Regions from separate parts of the Homo sapiens genome. Here region 2 is linked to region 1. The links come from fine-mapping of genetic effects on gene expression. Tissue or cell type: whole blood. Region 1 holds a variant in brackets; the other region holds the start of a gene. All regions are shown on one strand. Distances are between the middles of the regions.

Region 1 (12,153 bases):
GCAGCAAATATCAAGTTCACACACATTTTATTAACCAAAAGAAAGTGGCCAAGTCCAAGGTCAATGCAGGGAGGGCAATGTATTCTGCCTGCACAGAAGTATGGAAAAGGCAAGGAAGGAATGAGTAATTGTGAACAAATAATACAATATGACCTTACTGAGCTCCTCATTATCTTTTATTTTTTGGGATCTATGCCAATTGCCACCACCAAATTATTCATCCAGCCAAGCTGAGCCCATCAGAGTTATAGCTGACCCACAGTCAACCTGCATTTATCATGAAACATGAGCAAGAAGTAAATATTTGTTTTTTAAGCCACCACCAAATTATTCATGTGGCAATCCACACTGACCACTGAGACAACTGGAATGAACAGGTCCTTATAGAAACACAGACATAAAATTACTTGCAGGTCCAAGGTGTGTTGCAGGTCTCTGAATTTTACTTTGTTCATCTGCGGAACAAGAATAAGATCACCCTACTGCAGTGGCTCACACCTGTAGTGCCAGCTACTTGTGGGGCTGAGGTGGTGGGAGGATCGCTTGAGCCCAGGAGTTCAAGGCTGCAGTGAGCTCTGATCACACCACAGCACTCCAGCCTGGATGACAGAGCAAGACCTCCTCTCTGAAAAAAAAGAAGGAATGAAGGAAGGGAGGAAGGAAGGAAGGAAGGAGGGAGGGAGGGAGGGAGACTAGTTATGAAGAAGAAATGAGATCATGAGGTCATGTCTGTAAATGCATTTAGCACAATAACTGGCTTATAATAAAGGATCAGTAAATGCTAGTATTCTTTTTTTGTCTTTTTCCAAAGGTGGCATCCCTCTAGCCCAATTCCTTTGGAGGCTTAGGGGGCAACTGGGGCATGCTGGAAAATTGAGGAGTCTAGAATTCAAGAACTATGGATTCAATTCTGTTTCTAAATCTGCATACATTCCTAATCTATAAAATGAGGCATCTGTCTAAATGATCTCTAAGGTTCCTTCCAGTGCTAAAGATCCTCAATTTGGGGTAAAACATGCCTGTAGATGCTTGTTTTTTCTCCAGAGGTGCTGTTTAGTTTTAACACCAGGTGGCGCTAAATAACAACTAAATGTAAAAAGACAAAGGCTCTGTGTGTGTGTGTCTGTCTGTCTGTGTGTGTCTCTCTGTCTGTGTGTGTCTGTGTGTGTGTGTGTTGTGTGTGATGATGTGATTGTGTTTGTGTTGTGTGTGAAGATGTGATTGTGTGTGGGGTGTGTGTGAAGATGTGATTGTGTGTGGGGTGTGTGTGAAGATGTGATTGTGTGTGGGGTGTGTGTGTGGTGTGTGTGATGATGTGACTGTGTGTGTGTGTGTGTGTGTGTGTGTGTGTGTGTGTGTGTGTTTGGGTGTGTGTGTGATGATGTGATGAAATCCGGAGAGTTCTAGGCTATTTCTATTTTCTTCTTATGTGTATATTCTTATAAAGCAGAACTCTTGCAGCTGATGGTTCCTCAGAAACCATCACTCTGAGGAAATGGCTTCCAAAAACAAACCAAGCACGCTAGTCCTAGAGGCCGTCACACGAAGGGAGAGGGCCCCAGGAGCCGGGGGATAGCCCCAGACGCTTTCTAGGTTTGACTTTGAAATTTGGTTTCAAACTTTTACAATTAAAATAATTTATTTTTATTATTTTTAAGAGACGGGGTCCCACTCTGTTGCCCAGGCTGGAGTGCAGTGATGCAATCATAGCTCCCTGCAGCCTGCAACTCCTGGGCTTAAGCGATCCTCCCACCTCAGTCTCCTCAGTCACCCGGACCACAGGCGCGCCACCGCGCCTGGCACTGGAGTTTGAAATTTGGAAACTTCCTTCCTTTTGAGCAGAGGTATGAGATCATCGGAGCTGTGCTGTAGGACGATATATCTAGCAGCCACAAGATGGGCACAAGGAGTGGCTGGCAGCGGGGAGCATCGTTTGGGAGGTTCTTATGGCAGACAGGATCTGCGCACAGGCGTCTGAGCCGTGCGTTGGGAGTGAGCATGGAAATGAGGAGGCCGTTGTCGGGACAGAATCCCTCCCACTTGGCAAATGTTTAAATAAAGAGGCTTTGAGCAGGATAAGTCATCGTAAGAGATGACACTCAGATAACTAGGAAAACGTTAGGGCCTCTGACTGGAAGTGGGCAGATGACTTTGGGGCGGCAGTATTGCTGCTGTCCCTCCCTGGCTCATCTACACTGCGGGAGAGGAGACTGCACGGCCCCTGCCCTCCCAGGTACTCAAAACACCCCGAGGCGCACATGCTGGTCTTACCAGGGCCTCCTAGAGACTTGCCAGTGGGGCGCTTCAATATGACAATCAGCCTTTTTTTCAAAATATGTTTTCTTTCGCATGATTTTATTGGTGGTGCTTTAAGACCCTATGTCATTTCTCCAGCTCTTGGTGTGTTCATGCAGCCACACAGCACAGTGGAAGGAGCAATGGATTTGGAGGCAGATAGGCCTGGTTTAAATCCTGAAACCTCACTTCTCCTGTATAAAACTGACCAGAAGAGATCATGTTTGTTTTAGGCTTCTAAGGTTCTTAATTAAGTAACTTGGGCACGCTATTTGGTTTCTCTGAGCCTCAATCCTATCCAGAACAAAGGTGAAATACCTGTAATACCAATGTCACAGATTTGCCATGAGAAATAAAGGTCGTTTGGAGACAGACTAAGTAATTGGTAAATGCCAGTTCTCTTTCCCTTTAAAGAAAAGGCTATTTGGAGGCCCCTGTGTGAGTCTGTCAGACAAATTCAGCATCAGCACAGAGACTGATATAATGGCCATGGTTATCTGGGGCCACTTTTTGCAAGAAATGCTGAGCTGTCATGATACAAAACACTCAAAAATTAAATCTACTAAGCTGGCGTACAGTTTGGGACTTAGGATATTCACTGGTCCGCAAGAAATAAAAAGGAAACGGGGGTTACACAATGCATCTCTGTTCTAGTTACTCAATCTTTACCCAACTGAAACCTCACTTCACAACAGATTAGCCACAGCCCCTAAGGGCAATAAAATCCTGAATTGCAAACCCTGTTTTGCCACCTCACAGAACTTTCATAAATCTCAGCTGCAGTGAATGCATCTCCTATTTAATTTATGAAATGACTATTTTGAGAGACTATTCACACTAGTCATCTTTATTAGTCCTTCTGCCAACTCTCCAATTTGGGGGAAGAAGAAATTAACATGCAATATTAACGCTTTTATTGTGCATATAAATTTGCTGTTTTCAAGGGATATAGGGCAATATATGGGATGTGAGCCTGGTAGATAATTTCCAGAGTTGGGTCACTGCTGCTTCCCTCTTATTCTGGAGACAGGCAAAAACTACTGGTTACCAAAATACCAGTGAACAAGTGTCCTATAGCAAGCAAGCACGCAGTGCCCACCAAGGAGTGCACGATGTCAACTATTCACACCCTAGGGAGGAGAAAACTAAGAGAGAGTGCTTGAAGTGATGATGTTGCACCTTTACAAGAGTCAGGGATGAGAATGCCAGCACCAGCCACAGAAGCACACACTCTTTTCAACAGTGGAAAAATGGGGAAAGCTGTGCACCCAGCCACAGCTGCTGTGAACACAGCTGACAAGAAGCACCCTTCTAGTTCTGCTCTTGTAGATGAGAACACCCACCCCTTTCTTCATTTAACCTAAGCCATCCCCCATTCAAACGACATGATCAAGAGGGCATGAGGGCTCTGGGTTGGAGCTGTGCTTGGCAGCGTAACCTTTCCTTTCCAACTCCTTGCTTAAGGATCCCCTGTACGTCACCATGTGGCCTCACCAAGACTCACCCCATCAGGGTGAAGAAGACAGCAGGGACCACTGCAGGAAGCTGAGTTTGCTACTTGGGTAGATGCTCACAGAGTGTGAGATGCAACTTGTTTCCTAAGGTTCAGGGCTATGAGACTCCAGAATGCATTACAGAAAACATTACTTGGAATTATCCTCTGTTGATTTTAAAGAAACTGGTGAGGAGATGACTTTCTGGGCTGATTGTGTTAAATTTAAACAGGCACAGATGTCAGGGAGGAAGGCCCAGGCTGCTCCAGTGGAGCCTCACAGGATGGCAATACAGAGGAGTGGCCAAAGTGTTCCGGGGTCTGACCCTCAGCCATGCAGGTCCCAAGAGAGGATTTTGTCTGTGTTGCTGGGTGATTAGGTTGAAACTGACCCGTGCTAACCAAACTCTCAAACAAAACCCACATTTATTTATTTGTAACAGGTACACAATAAGCCTTTCCAAGGATCTCCAAACTTGTTCCCTCAATCTTGGACACATTCTGCCCATTATCAAGGTACCTGGGAGACCAAATTCATAATCAGGTTGTTGCTTGTGAACAAGGATTCAGAGCAAAAGCATTGCATAACCTTAAGGGGTGCAGCATCCAGATATTGGAGAAGACTTCTGAATGAAATGTACTTTCTAGATAATCTGAACATGAGTAGCTACCAAGAAACATGTCTCTCTCCTCTGGAAAGTTAGATAATCACAACAAATTCTCACTGCCTGGCCTCCTCTTACCTCAATATGTGCAGATTTTCTAGCTGCCACACATCCACTCACATGATTCCCCTTTTTCTTCAGATGGATCACAGTTCCTGCTGCCTGTAATCTATTCAGTCATTTTCCTGAACCTTTACCTGGCTCATCTTAACTATCCCCAATATTTGTTGCTGTTCATTACCAGCTCTCAGAGAGGGTTACTGATGGTTGCTGTTGTCAATGACTCGTTGGTTCTTATTAGCTCCTCTGATGGAATGGTTTTCGAGTTCTGGGGGCACTTTAATGCATGCATGACAAGCTCCTACAGCTTTCCTGGAGGCTGGAAGATGCCTCCTGTAGACTTGTTCAGCACCAATTGTTCTGTTCATCTGTGGAATGAGCTTGTAATGTGTTTTATTTATTTTGTCTCCACACGTTCTCACCTTCCTAGAGGAAGAGGTGAATAAACTGCCCTGCCTATCCTCACAAGAAAGTAATTTTTTCACCTTAGGTGGGCCATCTGCTTCTCCTAACAACTCTGCTTTGCCTTGAATTGAATACATCTTGTCCCAGGCATTTTGCCAGCTGTAGGCTCCAGGAAATGGAGCAACTAAAAGTGGTTTCCTTATGATGTCAAGGTCTTATTATTTTCTTTCTTTTTTTTTTTTGGAAATGCAACTTATGAGATCAACCCAAAGGAAATTGTGCATCAGTGTCCATAGGGGTGGTTCACAGAGTGGCAGGAGTCTCTGAGCAACAGTCTAAGCTGTATATGAATTTCTTAAGAATTAATCCCATTGCACATGTCGGTAGATGTGGCAGGGACCTGACAGATGGGGGAAATTGAGTATTTCCTTTAGGACTCAAAAGAGACTCCTAAGCTAGAGATTCTCAACCTGGGATGAAGATCCAAGTCACCTGCGAGGTTTTCAGTCTTCATGCCTTGGTCCCATTCAGCTGGCTGCTTCTGGTACCCAGCTGTGTGGAGAACAACTCTCCTAAGCCACTTGGAATCAAAGCTCCCAAGTTATTGGGGGAAAAGATTACCCAAGGCAAAGAGCCAGAATGTGCAGTCTTAATTCAGAAGATGGGAAGCAGTGGGACGCAACAGTAAACTGAGGGCGTTTTCTGATGTGATCATCCACAGACTCAGGATTATAGCAAGCAGTAAGTCACGAAGAGCATGAGGCAGCCTTGGGCTGGTGACCATGGGCCACTCAGGCCAACAGAGGGGATTTTCTCCTGCTTCAGCTCAGAGACAGAGTATCAGCAAGGGCAGCATCACCTGAGCGATGTTAAGAGGCAAAGCAAAACAGTAGCTCCTTCCGGGAATCAAGGCATCAACATGGGAGCCATTTTATTGAGGTGAGAAACAGAAGAAGAAATGGTAGGGATCATGAGATAGAAGAAAACAGCATTCATGGCCTTGTTCTAACATAAATGTGAGAGATGGCCTTGAGATTTGCGGAACTACTCAGAAGAGACGGGGCCATGGCTTATATTCAGCCAATACACACAGGCATGATGTTACTGCAGGTAGAAACTGGAAATTCTGCCCTGATGGTTGGTAAGTAGCTTAAGTTAGACCACATGCCACCAAATGACATCATGCAGTGGCCACTGCATGAGTGGTTTTGGGACTTGGGACTGGTGCATCTGGACAGGGCAGCATGATATAAGAAGACCAAGGTGGAAGCTGAGACAGACACAGTGCCTACTTGCTGCTCAGGAGGGGTCCAGGGTTGGCAGGAGTAGCAGAACAAGCTGGGCTAGTGACAGGGTTGTAGATGGGGCAGAAGCAAAAGTACTCTGGGTACACAGATGAGGTGAAAAACGCTAGCATTCTAAACACAGTGGGCACCCCACCCAATCACTCTCCTGCTGAGGCACATGCCTGGGACCACACCTAATAACCATCGACACAAGGAGAAGCCATTGGAAGCATTTAGTACAGTTTCCTCCATAAAACTGTAGCTTAGAGACAAGCAGCATTTAGTTTAGTGAGAGCTTACCAAACATAAGACCATACCATTAATTTCTAAAAATCAATAATGATTTAGAAATTATTAGAATGATTTGATGAAAATGTTGCCTTGTAAGCTACATTACACTGTAAACAGTTTCATGATACATAGTTTAAAGACTAGAAAGGAAATATTTTTAATTTTTATTTATATACTGATTTATAGAAATACATTTATTTATTAAAATATGCCACCATACAGGTTGCTAAATATGTTGCAATTTATCCTCAGATTGAGCAATGTGGAACTAGGGGGATGGTGATTCAGCTGATGTGGTTTGAGATGGTTGTAACCCCGA[C/A]CCCCATTCTGGGTTGGTCCAACCTGGGAAAAGATAGGTTTCACTTGATTTACAAATAAAACATTATTTACTGTTTGCTGCTGAGGACTGGGCCCACCAAACCTAGTTAGTAGTTCCAAGTCATCACTGTTCTCATACTTCCTGAATCTTTGTAGCCACAAGGTACAAACTGTACAAAAGAAATTGCTAAGTTAGGCTTTTAGTGTCTTTGCCAGGACAGTGTTAGATCAGAAGTTCATTCATTTGATAAATAGTTATTGAGTACTTAAACGGTGCCTGGCACAGTTCTAGACACTGAGGATGCATAAAACAATAAAACGGGAAATCTCTACTCTCATGTAGCCAACGAGCAATTGCAGGTGGTGGGCATTATTCAAAGGCTAATAATGATAGATGGAGCTAAGGAGGAAGTTGGAATCCCATCTCAGCACTGTCTCACTGCACACTCTGCCCTTCTTGGGTTAGAGTCACTAGAGCAACATGATTAACAGCACAGAACCCCAGAACTAGTCTACTCTGAGACAGTCAAACAACTATATGGGTGGGTGCCAGGAAAGGGCCTCTGCTCCCAATGTGCTGCTCCTTTGTCATGACCTAATATCTAAAATTCTGTCACCGAAGAAGCATTTTCTATTATAACAAGTGTTCCTTAGAGTCCAGTCTCTTGAGATATATAGTTTTTTTTAAAAAGTCCAGTAGTCAAACAAATTTAGCAAACCCTTCAGCTCTTAGAGATTCACAATGAGTTAGCATATTAAATATAATCTGTAGGGATCTCGATCAGTTTAGGACGAAAAATTTGGGGATCTCTCTTTATTTTTCCAATTGCTTGCTTAAGCCTCCATTCCTCCATATAGTAGGTAATTTGGTTTCTCTTTCTTAAGGAACCTTCATTCTCTCTGTTGTACAGAAACCTGAGAATTAACTTAGTCCAAAGGTAGTAGTCTTGTTTCAGTGGTCCATGTGACCAGTCCATTAACAGGTTCTGGTTTTAAACATAACTTCTGTACAATGTCACTGTTGAAAACTGATTCCATCAGGCTTCAGTGAGTCCTTGTCTTGCTGTAGGAATGGCCTTGCTGCTATGGAACACTGCACAGGCAGCAGGGTAGCACTGTGCATATGGACGCCCAAGACAACAGCTTATTGGGTTTACACTCACACAATCAGCCACTGTTCCCTAAACATGACAGCTTTGCCAAAGTGGCTGGGTATAATTGGGCTTCTAACCACAGCTACACACAGGATCTAGAACAAGCTGTCCCCACAAACCTCTACGCTCTGGTGTTGAACCTGTCACTGAGCCAGACTCTCTCTTCTTGGGAGACCTCAGTCAGAGCTATCTTAGCCCTTCAGAAAGTTTTACTTAGGTTGAATCTCAAATGGGACGGAGATCCCTTCCCCAGGTCTTCATCCCTTTCCTCCTGGAGGATCTTTAGCACTCGGTAAGTTTGTTTTGCCATGTCAGGGGGATACTGAAAAGAACATCCATTGTAAGGCCACAAAATGTTCTTTTTCCAGTGACATGTATATCCACTCACCTAATATTGGCATACTTAAGAGTATGCAGGGAGGCTGGATGCAGTGGCTCACACCTGTAATCCCAGAACTTTGGGAGGCCGAGGCGGACGGATCACTTGAGGTCAGGAGTTTAAGACCAGCCTGGGCAACATGGTGAAACCCTGTCTCTACTAAAAATACAAAAATTAGCTGGGTGCAGTGGTGTGTGACTGTAATCGCAGGTACTTAGGAGGCTGAGGCAGGAGAATCACTTGAGCCTGGGAGGCAGAGGTTGCAGTGAGCTGAGATTGCGCTATTGCACTCCAGCATGGGCAACAGAGCGAGACTCTGTCTCAAAAAAAAAAAAAAAAAAGTATGCAGGGAACTACCAACGCAGATCCAGGGAATTCATATCTTAGTCTATCTTGCTGCTTCTCCAGCTTCAAATGGGACATGAGTCACAACCTGGAAGGATACAGAGCATAGCACAAATAGTTTCATGGGAGCAAAAGGATAGGAAGAGACATGGAGAAAGAGAGATAAAGATGAAAATCAAAGGACAGAAAGAGATCCTAGAATAGGAGAGGCAGCTAAGCATCTGAAGGGCCCTCTGTCACACAGGTAAGGGGTATGAAAAAAGAGGTAGAAGGAAGATTTCCCCTGTTATAATGTTAAGAGGGACATGGTCTACCACAGAAGCTCCCATCTAATGTATCATAACATGTGACTTGCTTCAGGGAGAATCACATTCCCAGGGATTCTCTCCTGAATTCCTTATGCTAAACTAAAGCCCTAAAACCTCCAGGCTTATTGGTTAAAAAGTCCTCACCTCTCAGTGAGGCAGGCTTCTAATGGAGAAATCTCAGAACCTTTTAGGTCAGGAAAGAAAATCCCATTATTTGCTGAGATAGCTTTAGACTCATTAATTTTCTTTTTCTTTTCTTTTCTTTTTTTTTTTTTTTTTTTTTTTGAGACTGAGTCTTGCTCTTTCGCCCAGGCCGGAGTGCGGCGGCGCCATCTCGGCTCACTGCAAGCTCTGCCTCCGGGTTCACGCCATTCTCCTGCCTCAGCCTCCGGAGTAGCTGGGACCACAGGCGCCCGCCACCACATCCGGCTAATTTTTTGTATTTTTAGTAGAGACGGGGTTTCACCGTGTTAGCCAGGATGGTCTCAATCTCCTGACTTCATGATCCGCCTGCCTCAGGCTCCCAAAATGCTGGGATTACAAGCGTGAGCCACGGCGCCTAGCAGACTCATTAATTTTCTGACACTAAAATGGTCAAAATTTCTATGGGGAGGGGAAAGACATTGAACTTGTGTGATATTCTTAAACCCTTCATTCTCAGATACTTATCCTTCTCTATTTTCTCAAATATTTTACATAAAGTAACTTAAGACATAAAATAAACCATAGACATAAGATAGCTTAAGACACATAATAAATCACTTAAAATTGTTAAATCTTTCTAATGTCAAGATATTTACACTTGAGCCATACTGGACCAATCAACACGAGTCACTAACATAGAGTGTGGAAGCATAGTAAAAATTCTGTAAGGTAGTAACAATCCAGGGGCAATTTTTGTTAATTCACCCCCAAAGAAGGAGGCTTATTTAGAATATTAGTATTAAAGGCAAAGATTAATTTGATCAAATTGTCATTTGATAGAAGACAGTGTTATAGAAAGGTGTGGGTTTTTTTCGTAGAATTGTTGCTATGCTTTAAACTTTCAGTGGACATAGGTGACTCTCTAACACATACCCAATCCTCTGGAATAACAAGTTATATTTCATCAGGATTATACTGTATGTAATATATTTCATGTGTTTAGAGATTAAATATCCAGAGAAAATATCATCATTGCCTATTTCCTGGCATTTCATGTGTCCTATCTGATATGTATACACATAAAGGGAGCAAGTTTTAGTTATCTAATACTGTGTTGTATTTATTATTTCAGTTTGAAAATGCTTTTATTTAGATTTCCAAATATGTAATTTTTAATGTTTTATTAGTAAAGGAGCAATAAAGGAACAATTTTATAGCAAATTTAACACCTATAAATTTCCCTGTTTGCAGTGTAAAAGAAACAGCTTCCATAGACCACAGGTCTGCTCAAATTTCAAAGAATGTTAAATGAAATACTGCTAAACTGCCCTAAAGTTATCTTATTCCATAAAATAATTGCAGGTTCATTGTTTACACTTTTATACAAAATGGTGTCTGATTCTGAATGGATTTATTATATGAATGTGTTTATTATTTTTAAAATAGCTATATTTGAGAAGCTGCATAAAGGCTAGATTATTACAAATAATGATTTTAATTGACCTGAAAAATAAATGTTAAAAAGATATTGAAAACTATGTCCACACAAAACGTGCATACAAATATTTATAGCACCTCTACTCTCTTTTTTTCGTTTTTAAATGAAGTCTCACTCTGTTGCCCAGGCTGGAGTACAGTGGCGCTATCTCGGCTCACTGCAACTTCCACCTCCCAAGTTCAAGTGATTCTTCTGCCTCAGCCTCTCCAGTAGCTGGGACTACAGGGCGCTGGCCACCATGTGCGGCTAATTTTTTTTTTTAATGTATTTTTGTATTTTTAGTACAGATGGAGTTTCACCATGTTGGTCAGGCTGGTCTCAAACTCCTGACCTCAGGTGACCTGCCCACCTCGGCCTCCTAAAGTGCTGGGATTACAAGCGTGAGCCACCGCATCCAGCCCCAGCACCTCTATTTTTTTTTTTTTTTGAGATGGATCTCGCTCTGTCGCCCAGGCTGGAATACAGTGGCATGATCTCAGCTCACTGCAACTTCTGCCTCCCAGGTTCAAACAATTCTCCTGTCTCAGCCTCCTGAGCAGCTAGGATCACAGGCATGTGCCCCCATGCCTGGCTAATTTTTTGTATTTTTAGTAGAGACAGGGTTTCACCATGTTGGCCAGGCTGGTCTCAAACTCCTGACCTCAGATGATCCACCCATCTCGGCCCCCCAAAGTGCTGAGATTACAGGCGTGAGCCACCATGCCCAGCGCGCACCTCTGTTCTTAATTTCCAAAACTGTACGCAACCAAGATGTCCTCCAACAAGTGAAAGTATAAACAAACTGGTATATCTATACAATGGAATATTATTCAGTGATAAAAAGAAATTATCAAGCCATGAAAATACATAGATGAATCTTAAATGTATATTGCTAAGTGAAAAAAGCCAGTATGTAATGGCTACATACTACATGATTCCAATTATATGACATTCTAGAAGGGGTAAAACTATAGAGATGGTAAAAAGATCAATGGCTGCCAGGAGTTCAGGGTAGGAGGGAGGGGAGGGTTGAATAGGTAAACCACAGGAGATATTTTAGGGCAGAGAGACTATTCTGTATCATAATGTAATGGTATGTACAAGACACTATGTGCTTGTCAAAACCCACAGACCTTTTCAGCACAAAGACTGAACCTTAATACATGCAAATTACTAACAATTATTTAGGAGGTTGGACAATCCCAGGATAAAAACAGAATGTGACAAAACAATCTAACTTTATTACTCATGTATGAAACAACCTCACTGAAAGGCGTAGTGAGGGGGAAGTTGCAGACCTATGTAACTTTGGAAATGAGTAGAGTCTGTCAAACTAAAGGTAAAAGACACCGTATATAAACACTGTACTCCAGCTGATAAAATTGTTTACCATGAGGTATGTGCCAACAATTCCGATGCTGCTATACATGTATACTGGAAATGAACAATTAAATAAGTGGCTGATAGTAGGAGTTAGGTTCCCACTGCTGGAGCAGGAGGTTACAGATGAGCAAGAGGAGGAAGCTCAAATGAT
Region 2 (12,153 bases), 43 kb after region 1:
ACAGGTTTAATTTATACCTAAATATAACATTTAAAATAATCAGTTCTTTGGTTCTCATTTGTCCCAAAACAGGGGTGCCTTCACTCCATTAGTACCTATTGAAATATTTCATCATGGTGGGCAATAACTATATTTATGTTACATTAATGTATTGTACAACCCCAAAAGAACTTGATCTTTTAAATCAAAATTAAAGAAAAATTAATTAGATCTGTGTTGCCCAACCAAGGATAAAAAATTTTAGCTAAATAGTTAATATATTAGATTTTAACAATGTTAAAAAGCATTCTGCCAAATAAATGTAACTTCTATTCATATTTCATTTTATTCAATAGGCACATTTTAGAAAATGTTGGGTAACTACTAAATCCATGCAAAGAATATGAGAAAACTGATTTATATTTCTACACTTCTATTTTGTCTAGTAGGCCAAATTTTCTTTTTTTAGAGATGGAGTGTTGCTATGTTGCCCATGGTGACTCAAACTCCTAGGCTTAATCAATCCTCCTCAGTAGCTGCAAGTAAAAATTTTTATTTTAAATATGATTAAAATATATATATATAAATCTATAAACATCTTAATAAGATGCACAGATTTCTTGGTTCTATTATATCCTGAAAACATATGCATGCTCCGTTAACTTTTCACAACTCAGTGACTGACTAGAAGTCCTCTATCAAAGCAAACTACAAGTAAAAGCTTGGGTAAAAGAAAAGCTTTTGCCTCTTCTAGATGTGAAAAAAACATGGATGTCTCTAATAAAACAAACATCAACAAGGACAAATTTTGAAATAGTTAAGTCAGCAAATTATAAAAATACTGTTTAGGGTCTGATTTGTAGGCCTATTCCACCACTTTAAAATATAAATTCTAATAAGGACATTAAAGCTTGTTAATTAATTTTATTATGCCTCAATTAGGTGCTCAAATGTTTACTGGTTAAACGGAGTTTTAAAATTAATAGATTTCTAAAGTGAGGATTAAAAAAACTCTCATTCAACATTTTGAGGGCCAGGCACGGTGGCTCACACTGGTAATCCCAGCACTCTGGTAGGCTGAGGTGGGCAGATCACTTGAAGTCAGGAGTTTGAAACAAGTCTGGCCAACATGGTGAAACCCTATCTCTACTAAAAATATTATACAAAAATTAGCCTGGTGTGGTGGTGCACACCTGAAGTCCCAGGTACTTGGGAGGCTGAGGCTGGAGAATTGCTTGAACCTGGTAGGTAGAGGTTTCAATGAGCCAAGATCATGCCACTGCACTCCAGCCTGGGTGACAGAGTGAGATTCTGTCTCAAAAAACAATCAACACATTTTGAAAGCCAGTATCAGAAGGTGCTGTACACAATCTACTAAGCAGTCATTACAAAAAGGAATTTCCTAAGTGGCAGACAAACATTTCTACACAACTAGATTCTTCCACAACAGATTTTTTAACTTTGTTCTTTCTAATTAAAATGTACTGTTACATACACTACATTAAAACTTCCATTAGCACTTAATAACCTCTCGGTTGTGCAGATAGTTCAAATAGTTTAAAACTCATATATACCTCAACAAGTTGTGCTTTATTAAGTCCTGGTCTGGTTGGTAGCTTGAAGTGTCTTTTGTATCTCCTAAGTGTATTTACTTGTAATTGGTATAAATCAACCTAGAAAAAATTAACATGTATAAATGAGTTCATACAATTTGTTGAAAATTTATCATTGATATGTATAATAACAAACATTTTAACTTCAGCACAATAAAATTTACTTCCAAAATCAAAAAAAATTTAAAAAATTTATATAATCCAACATAAATTATTAAAGAATTTAATCTTTTGGGGATAAATAATATAAACTGAGGTCAAAAAAAGAGTAAGTTATGTGACAACAGAGCTGCAAAAATTGTCAATCTAAAATGTAACAATTCAAACTGTGTAAATGCATGTCAACTGGCTATATTTAATTTTGCTTTCATTTTCAGATTTCTCAAATGTTTTAAACACTTAAAAGATTGTTCATATCTTTTTATAAAGGCTTCAGAATGCACTACTTAGGATTTACATTAAGCATAAAAAACTTCCATCTACCTCTGGGGTATCAATATCTTGAACAGGTGAATCACCTCCATCATCATCACTCCCTTTTCTCTTTCTTCTGTTTCGAACACTCTGAATTAAGTTTTTATGATAATCACATATGTAAAGATGCCTTGCCTGAAACAGAAAAGTTTTACACACTGCTTATGATTACAGTAAAATGTGTCTATGTATTAGTAAAACACATATGCCACAGTGAGTTCTTAAAAATAAAGACAGCCAAGATGGGCCATTGTTAAGATAATGGAATATTTATACGTTTAAATCCTATACGCTAAAACATAAGATGTCTGGAATACTGTTAAAAGGATGGTGGATGGGGAAGGAGGGGTTGGTTCCATCTGGGGAAGGGGGTAAGGGAGGGAGGGAGAGGAGAATGAGAAATTCCAACCCTCTGGGTTTTGTCATCAAATTGCAGTGAGGGGCTGGGCGCGGTGGTTCACGCCTGTAATCCCAGCACTTTGGGAGGCCAAGGCGGGTGGATCACTTGAGCTCAGGAGTTCCACACAAGCCTGGCCAACATAGTGAAATCCCGTCTCTACTAAAAATACAAAAAATTAGGCGGGCATGGTGGCAGTAGCCTGTAATCCCAGCTACTCAGGAGGCTATGGCAGGAGAATCACTTGAACCTGGTGGTTGGAGGTTGCAGTGAGCCGAGATCGCGCCACTGCACTCCAGCCTGGGCAACAGAGTGAGACTTTGTCTTAAATAAATAAACAAACAGATAGCAGTAAGGATGACCTGAATTAGTTCATGTTGAATTTTTAACTGATGAGGGGAAAGATGATGTTGCTCACAGTTTTGCTACTTGACAGTACTTTCTCTACTTAAAAGAACAGCATATTTTAGTAATATAATGTATGCTTTCCAGTCTTTCTAACTGAATACCCAAATTATAGTCCAGATACAAAACCATTCGTTTTCACAAATGAGCCATCGACTTCAAAACTATATTTAAATTTCAGTTATACATTTTTCTGAATATTAAATCAATGTATTTATCTATAACACATTTTTCCAAAACAATCTGAAATTATGCAAGTTCACCTGAAGAGTTTCTCATGGATAACACTGAAAACTGTTTAAACGGGCAAAAAGTGTCACAAATAAACTTTTCAAAAACTTTAATTACATATACTCCTGCGAGCTGTAGACTAGCATTTGAAACAAACACGGACTGAGCTAACAGGCTTTTACATTTACTTCTAAGCCAAGCGCAAGATAAAAATATGCAGGACTTGTGGTAGGTTCTCGATACCATGTTATTCATTTACCGCTAGCCAGATCTCCCAAAAGTAGCAACGGCTGTTTCTAAAAACCTCATAGATGGTCAAACGAAAAGACGTGCAAAAAATCCTGATGGCTGCCAAGGGGATGGCAAAACCGCAGAGGCTACGTGCTCCCCACCATCGGAGTAGCTGCCCTCGGAGCTGACAGCGCAAACGCCGTTTACAACCCCGGCTCACTGCCAGGCGGCGGGTGAGCTCGGCTTCCCTCTCACTCCGCTCCGGAGGAGACGGAACACAGAAAAGAACAGGATCTTCCTTGTTCGTGAAGGTCCTCCGCTTTCTCCTAGACGACGGGATTTAGTACCGCCTGGGGCCAAACACCAGCTTGGGCAGCAAAACAAAGGCGCCTCCATTCCAGAAGAGCTGCCGGGCTGCAAGAAAACTACTCTGGGCCCTCAGTGCGCCGGTCCCCTTTGTTTCGTGTCCCGGTCGCAGAGGAGAAGGAAGAGGGAAGACTGCGCGGGAGAGACGCAGGCAGCGGGAGGTTGGGGGCCAGGGTGGGAAAGAAGAGGGGAACGACAGCCTGTGTGTGGTGTGTGTGTTGGGGTGGCGGTAGGAGTTGCAGCGACTTTGTTATTTGCTTCCAAACACAGACTCCACGAGACCGCACTGCAGCCAGTGCGGTTGTCTGGGGGACCCCGCCGACAACCCGTGCCTTTGCCCGGCTCCTGGGGCCCCACCGAGGGGCGGGAGGGCAGGGCGGTCCCGCGGTTTACTTACGCTCTTATCCAGCTCGATCTTCACCTTCTTCTGGGAGATGCTCTTCTGGATCCTCTTGCTGAAGCTGGCGTTGCCTGCCGCCCGGCCGCACCGCTCACCATCCTCCCGCAGGCAGCACAGTTGCCCGGGGCCCGGCCCGGCCGCCCCCGGGGGCCCAGCCGCTGAGACCGCCCCCGCGCCCGGCACCTCAGCCCCGGTGCCCGCGCCGGTCCCGTTCCCCGCCGAGGCGGCGGCGGCCGCGGCAGCGACCACTGCGGCCACTGCGGCGGCCGCATCCCCGCCGCGGCTCATCTCGTCAGGCGTGAAGCCGTTCATGTCTCCGAGCTCCCGAGGCCGGCGCTGACAGAAATCCCCTCTCTCCTGGCCGCTCCGCCTCTCTCCGCTCCGGCAGCGGCAATTCACTCTGCACACCAAGTTAGACAGCGGCACGGCCAAACACCAACTGTCCCGGGCCTGCTGGTCTCTGCTGGCACCGAAACAGTGGACAGTGCTGAGGGCCGGGACGCAGACTCGAGCGTCTCCTGGAGCGGGGACCCCGCTCACTGTCACATGGGGACTTCAGCAGTTGGACCGCTACGCCTCCGCCTCCCTCCGGCCCCGGGACCTGCGCAAGCGCGACGCGCCCCCTCCCGTCCCGCCCCTTTCTTTCTGCCGCGCGGCCCCATGGGAATTGTAGTTCTCTGCTGCAGAGTCAACCTGAGCTCCGCCCTGACCCCGCGCCATGAGGGACGGAGGAACTACTAATCCTAGCATGCATAGCGCGGCCACGGACCCACTTTTTTTTTTTTTTTTTTTTTTCAGTACCGGGAAAACAGGAGCGTGTGATTGGGGTTTACAGTGTTTTCTCTCGCTCTCTCTGTTTCTAGGGAATTCGGGCTGTGTTTAGCTGCTGGAATATCGTAGAATTGGTTTTCAGAGAAGTTCCTCGACTCCTGAGGCGAAACATAAAGGGATGGGAGTGGTGTGGGAAGTGATCGTGTGGGGAAAAAAAAGTTTCGAGCCCGTTTCGCATTTGTGGAGACAGAGTTTTTGGTGTGACCACTCTTTTGTGGGAAACCCAAACCAAGGAGAACTCAGGAGAATTGGCGCTCTTCGGTCCTGGAGGTTCCGCAGCTAACATCCCGGCTTGACCAACTATCGAGGCCGCAAATTAATAGGGCACCTCCTGGGAGGAAAACGCCCATCCTGACTTCTCAACTGTGACAGGTCCCCCTCACAAACGCCTTGCGGGGGGGTGGGGGGGCGTTTCTAAACACTTGCATGTTCTTACAAGGGAAATGTTTTTATTCTTGGGCGCACCAAGTTGGCCGCCTCCTGAGGTGGAGTACGGACCAGTTGACAACAGGGCTCCTTTTCACCTCCACGCCCAACCTTTTCCATTTCTCCTCAAACGGTTTTGGAGAAGGGCGGAGTCATATCATTTTAAAGGAAACTTGGAACCTCACCAATACAAACGCTGGTCGAATGTTCCCAGAAACTTCCCTGCATTAGCTCTACCGGGCGCGGGGAGCAGAAAGCGCATTTCCTGAGTCCTGAAAAGCGCGTGCGCGCCTGTGTGCTGCCGGCGTTTGGGCGCGCCTGCTTGTATGTATGTGTTCGCGGGCGCGCGCGTGTGTACGTGTGTGTGCGCGCGTACGCGTGTATGTTCCTGCGCGCTTGCGGGGACGTGCTTGTGGAGGGCGGAGAGAGGGATGGGCGTGGCTAATATGAAAGCTGCATCTTTACTAGTTAGCTACCATGCGTCATTATTTATCAAAAGATATATGCTGCTTAAACACAAATACGTTTTAAAATATATTTTAGGCAGTAGGGTTTTGGGTTTTTTTTTTGCAAGTTCTTTTGGTGAGTAAATTTAGTGATAAATGATTTTTTTTTCTTTTGAGACAGTTTGCTCTGTCGCCCAGGATGGAGTGCAGTGCAGTGGCGCGATCCTGCAACCTCCGCCTCTCGAGTTCAAGCGATTCTCCTGCCTCAGCCTCCCGAGTAGCTGGGATTACAGACGCGCGCCACCCCACCCAGATGATCTTTTTAAATGCAAAATGCCATCGACGCAGAAAATCAAAGGTATCCATTGTATCTGTGCGTTTGAGTTCTAGGATATGACAAAGAAAAACAATTTAAATATTACGTAAATTCAGTAGGAAAAAGAAAGATGATGACTGATAAGTACATTGTGTACCTCCTTAAGCTGTGCTGTCCAGTAGGCTGTCCTCTAGCCATATGTGGCTACTCAGCACTTGAAATGTGGTTGAGACGGAAAAACTGAATCGTTAATTGAATTTGAATTAAACAAAAACCAAAAACCTGATGCTCGATTCAATTGTTGGAATACTTTTAAGTGTGTTTGCAACAACTCAGATATATGAATCTGTTTTTCCAACTTAAATTTTATGAACTCTAACTTTAGCATATGAATTGAGATGTGCTGTAAGTATATATCAGCTGGACTTTTTTTTTATTTCTGGACTTACTACAAGAAATTTTCAAAAAGAATATTGAAGTGCACATTAAAAATTTTTATATATGTTTAAATGTTTTGGATGTAATGGGTTAAACAAAATATTACAATAAATTGTACCTGTTGCATTAGATAACACTGGCTTAAAGTATTACAACACAGTAGGGCGTGGTGGCTCACGCCTGTAATCCCAGCACTTTGGGAGGCCGAGGAGGGTGGATCATCTGAAGTCAGGAGTTCGAGACCAGCCTGGCCAACATGGTGAAACTCCGTCTCTATTAAAAATACAAAAATTAGGCAGGCATGGTGACACAAGCCTGGGGTTCCAGCTACTTGGGAGGCTGAGGGAGGAGAATTGCTTGAACCCAGGAGGCAGAGGTTGCAGTGACCTGAGATTGCACCACTGCACTCCAGCCTGAGCAACAGAGCGAGACCCTGTCTCAAAAAAAAAAAAAAATTACAACACAGAATAATTATATATTTATGGATACATGTTATATATTTATGGATACATTTTCTTAAGTGGTAAAAATGAGAATATATGGATGGGATGATACATCCCAACTTCAGGGTGATGCTCATCTCCAACGAAGGAGGCCAAGGAATTTGTATATGGTGTCAGAGTAAACATAAAATATAAAGAGATGAATTTCTAAATTTAATGGTTTTTTGGGGAAGCAAGAATTGCAGTTCAGGACATACACACAGACTGAGTGGTCTTTAGTATGTCAGAAGAACAAAGAGAAGGTCGAGAGTTTTATTAGAAAGAGAAATGTTGCTACTGTTTTGAAAGAAGGTTCATTGGCACTATAGTAAAGTTTTGGGAAGCTGGCAAGCTCTGATTGGTGAGTGAGAGTGGTAGATAAAACCAGTCTTAGTCATAGGAGATTGTTTCAGCAACTACTCGGTAAAACTGGTCTTAGAGTTACTGCAGGCCGTTTCAGCAGCTGGGTTGTAAAAAACTTAATTCTTAATGCTAGAGCTGTGTGCCCTGATTGCTTTCTCCCCTGGTCCCTCGATTCTGATTTAGTTGGGTATGACAAGAATGATCCAGATTGTATGATCAATTTTCACACTGGGAATGGCTTAAAGATGGTTTCTTCTGAATTTTAAAGTTTTTATTTATTAAAAATATCTGAAACATGACAGTGGGATGTTGAATTTTCATATTTTTCTTTGTACATTTATGTGTTTTTAAAATAGTTCATGAAATTCATATTGTTTGGTTCTTGTGCTTAAAAAAGCTTATATCTTCTGCAAAATGTGACCAAATCATGTAAATTCAGTAGGAAAAAGAAAGATGCTTACTGATAAGTACTTTGTGAATCTCCTTAAGCTGTGCATGTATGTATATGTATAGTTATCAGTTTCATATGAAGCTTACTCAAGTAAAGAACTGTAGCTATGGCTCCTTTACACACAATACAATGGTTGTAAAAAGATCCTATTAAACAGTCACTTGTTGCATGCTAGAATCTTTTTCTAGGCCCTGGAGGCACAAAAATAATTGAGAGGGTCCTAGCTATTTGGGAGCTTCTTGTCTAGTAGGGCAGACAGGTAGCTTAACAAGCACATAATACAAACCTCAATAACAATAGAGAGAAAGTACAGGCATAGCACATAGGAGGAAATGATTCATTTCTGGCAAGTTGAAAAGATTGCTGGAGTAGGGGACATGTTAATTCTCACTGCCAGATTTAAAGTGTATCTTGAGTGAATCTATTTGTTTAGATACATTTTTACAACCATGTTTTGTTACTTATTTCTACAAATCTTCATATTTAGGGCAGGTATAAGAACTCTTTGATTTGAGTGTAACTCACAGTCAAGGTTGGAATCAGGTTTTAGGGGGGCTTCAAGATTATATAATCTGAAAGGTCTTTTTAAAGAAGTATGTAAAATTATGAATGCAAAATTAAAATTAGGTACAGGACTTCATAAGGGTCTATCCAAGTGAGGGACTCTGAAGTTTGAATCCTTTAGCTTCACAGTAAATCTACCTCAGAGTAGACTAGGTAAAAAATATAGATCTATGAAACCTTAATTATAGGGGGGTTGTTCATATCAACAAAAATGCTCTTTGCTTTCTAAAATGGTTCAAAATATGATTCTTAAAAAAGTATGTATCCGTGCCTGTCTTCCCTATAGGCTTTTAACATGATTGCATTTTTCTGGCTTTACTTTAAAATAAGCAACTAAATAATTTTATTTAATTTACAAAAACATATAAATTGGCCAATAATCCCAACATGACCACAGTAGAAAATTCAAATAATACAAAAAGGTTCATATGAAAAACAAAAGCCTGTTTTACCTCATCTCCTCAAATCCCTGTCCCTTGAAGCAACCAGTGTTAACAGATTATTGTTTCCTTCTAGAAAAAAGTATGCATTTACTAGTATATACATCTCTATATGTGAATAATTCTATATTTTACAGCAAAAGTTCATTCCGTTTTACACCACCTTTCCTTTATCTAGTTTTAAACTCAGCCATCATACAGAAAATTGTATAAAGCATGAATGTCCAGTTTAAGCAGTGCTGTGGTTTCAGTGTTTGTGTGTGTCCCCTCCCAAATTCATTGTGAAACTCAATCCCCAATGCAACAGTACTAAGAGGTGGGGCTTTTAGGAGGTGGTGAGGCCACCCTCATGAATGTGATTAGCGCCTTATGAAAGGGATAGAGGGGGCGAGTTTACCCCTTCCATCTCTTCCACCATGTGAGGATGCAGCAAGAGGCACCATCTTGGAAGCACAGAGCAGCCTCCACCAGACACCAAGATCAAATCTTGATCTTGAACTTCTCAGCCTCCAGAACCTTGAGAAAATAAATTTCTGGTTTTTATAAATTACTGAGTCTCAACTATTTTGTTATGGCGGCACAAATGAACGGAGACAAGCAGTTATGGTAAAATGCACATCCGTATAACTGCTACCCAGGTCAGGAAAGAGAACATTGCTGAAAGGGCCAGCTTCAGGGACTTGCAGTGGCACAGGACCCCAAGCTCAGAAGCCAACATGCTCCACTCTCCTCCTCCTTCCTGCTTGACATTTAATGCCCTGCAATCACCATCATGTAATTCTCAATAATTTTATCTTTGAATTTGTGTTTTATCAGTGAAGTATCAATGGGACAATGCATTGATTCAGGCAACATGGGCCTCCTGCCACCTCCCTTCCTCCCCAGAATGAGTTCTGGCTGCTCACTCTCTCCACTCCACCCCACCCCACCCTCTGCTCTGGCAGAGGCTGAGCAGGAGGTACGGTGCAGGAAGTGTCTGGCTGAGGTGCAGGATCCTCCCCATTTCCTCTGAACCAGGAGTCAGGCCCCTAGCTCCTTTGGGTCAGTTTTCCACCTGTGCCCAAGGGAGTGCCACATTAAATAGCAAATAAGAAAACACCATGTGAGGAGAAAGAGAGGGAGGGAGAGAAAAAAGATGTTTGTTCTGGACACCACAAATTATGTAGATGGCCCTGATTGACAACATGCCAGAAAGCCATCACCTGCCACTTCTTCATCATAAATCCCATCTCCCAGCTAGCAGGAGTAGCTATCTTGACTTTTATGGTATTTGTTACCTCGTTTTTCATTACAGTTTTGCCACATAGTTCTTCAACTTTTTTTTTCAGTTTTGCTGTTTTTGAACTTTATATAAGTGGACTCATATACTTTATATTCTGTTTTCTTTGGGTTCATTTACTCTGTTTTTCAAAGGTCTACTTTTATGTAGTTTAATTCTTTCTCTTCATTATGGTATGAATAAACTACAATATATCCATTCTATTGTTGATAGACATATGGATTGTTTCCCGTTTAGGGCTATTAAAAGAATGTTGCCATGAACATTCTTATTCTTGTACATGTATCCTGATACATACGTGACTGCAGGTCAGTAAGATATATATGTTGTTAAGTTGGAGTGAGAACTTCCAGCTCCTTGCTTACATATGTAAACAGAATTGCTGAGTTTTAAGGTAGGCGTAGATTCAACTTTACTAGATATTTCCAAACTTTTACACTTCCTTAAGCAATATATGAGAGTTCTGTATCTTTGCCTACCATTTGATATTGTACTTTCTAAAAAAGATCAAGTAGGTATGTATGGTATCTAATTGTGATTTTAATTTGAACATTCTTAGTTACTAATGAGATTATATATTAATTGGTCTTTTGGATTTCTCGTTTGGAAGTTCCTAGTTAGGTCTTTTGCCTATTTTTCTATTGGGATTGTGTCTTTTTCTGTTGATTTGTAGTAGTTATTCATGTTTTCTGAATAACAGCCTTTTCACAATTTTACATATTGCACACATCTTTGCCTACTTCATAATTTGCCTTTTGACTCTGCAGTGGCAACTTTTGTTTAAAGTCTTTTAATGAGGAAAAAATATATCTATCTTTTCTTTTCTGACTGATGATTTTTGTGACTTAAGTAAGTTCCTTATCCCCAAATCATGAAGATATTTTTCTACATTATCTTCTAACAGCTTCATTGTATTGCCTTTCTCATTTAAGATTATGATTGATTTTTGTGCACAGTGGTTGAGGTACAATTTTATTTTGTATATGCTACCCATTTGACCAAGTACCATTCACTGGAAAATCTATCCATATTCCATTCTTTTACAGTGTCACCTTTGTCATAAATCAAGTTGTATGTATGTAGGTCTGTTTCTGAAGCCTAGTCTTTCCATTGTACTTTGCCAATTCCACAGTCTTAATTATAAAAGTCGTTCAGAAAAATTTTGATAACCTAGAAGTATAGATCTTCTACCTTATTTTTTTTTCGTCAAAACACAGACTTGGTTATTCTTGACCCTTTGTATTTCCTTATACATTTTAGAATCAGCTTAAGTTCCAGAAAAAAGAAAAACCAACCAAATGAACAATAAGACAACAACAACAACAACAAAAAAGGCCTTTTGGGATTTTGGATGATATTGCATCAAATCCATACATTAACCTGAGAGACGAGCGACTTCTTCAACATTGAGCCTTCCAATCATGATTTTCAATTCATTTAGGTCTTCTGTAATGTTTCTTAATATAATTGTATTTGTTGCTATGCAGAAGTTTCACTGATCTTTTATTATATCTCTATATATATTTGATATTTCTGACACTATTGTAAATAGTATCTTTTTAATATTTCATTTTCCTTTTTTGTTGCTTAAATATATATAAAATAAGCTAATTTTCCAAACTAATTTTTATATCCAGCAACCCTGCTAAAATTTCTTATCCAATAAAAATATAAATGTATTTGTGTTTGGGTTTCAATGCATTCAATCATACCATTTTCAAATCGTTGAGTTTTCCTTCATTTTTTATTCCCTTTTTTCTTGTGCTACTACAGGTTCAGGACTCTAGAACAACATTATAAAAGAGGTGTTAGCAGGCAAAAATGTCTCATTTCCAGTTTCAAAAGAAAGGCTTTTCATGTTTCGCTATTATGTATCATGTCTGATACAGATTTTTTTGTTTTTCATCTAAATTTTTATACCATTTATATGTTCATAACAACCTCATGTTTTTAAGGTGTGCAAGATCTGACCCAGTGTCCCTATCTTCATCATCAATTATTAGTGCCTTCTCTCTTTTGTT

The links. PIP is the estimated chance that this variant, and not a neighbour inherited with it, causes the effect. A credible set is the group of variants that fine-mapping cannot tell apart.
Region 2: it holds the start of SAP30, and the variant in region 1 is the best candidate, but not a certain one, in a credible set for the expression of SAP30 in whole blood (TOPMed, PIP 0.76).

What each region holds. Positions count from the first base shown.
Region 1 is chr4:173,406,122-173,418,274 of GRCh38, reverse strand. LOC112268474 (a long non-coding RNA gene) reads right to left here. Exons shown (of 3, transcript XR_002959832.2): 3 at 4,195-12,153. It also overlaps a transcript of SCRG1 not described here. Among named protein-coding and RNA genes, the nearest start is that of SCRG1, 13 kb to the right of the region's middle. The variant C/A (reference allele first, on the strand shown) is at 6,814.
Region 2 is chr4:173,363,438-173,375,590 of GRCh38, reverse strand. It overlaps SAP30 (Sin3A associated protein 30), which reads right to left and starts at 4,637. Exons shown (of 4, transcript NM_003864.4): 1 at 4,094-4,637; 2 at 2,076-2,201; 3 at 1,554-1,652. The coding sequence starts at 4,408. SAP30-DT (SAP30 divergent transcript) reads left to right here and starts at 4,893. Exons shown (of 4, transcript NR_183973.1): 1 at 4,893-5,299; 2 at 5,981-6,157. RefSeq lists enhancers at 3,527-3,826, 3,530-4,093, 5,177-5,416, 7,882-7,951 and silencers at 3,947-4,326, 4,607-4,776.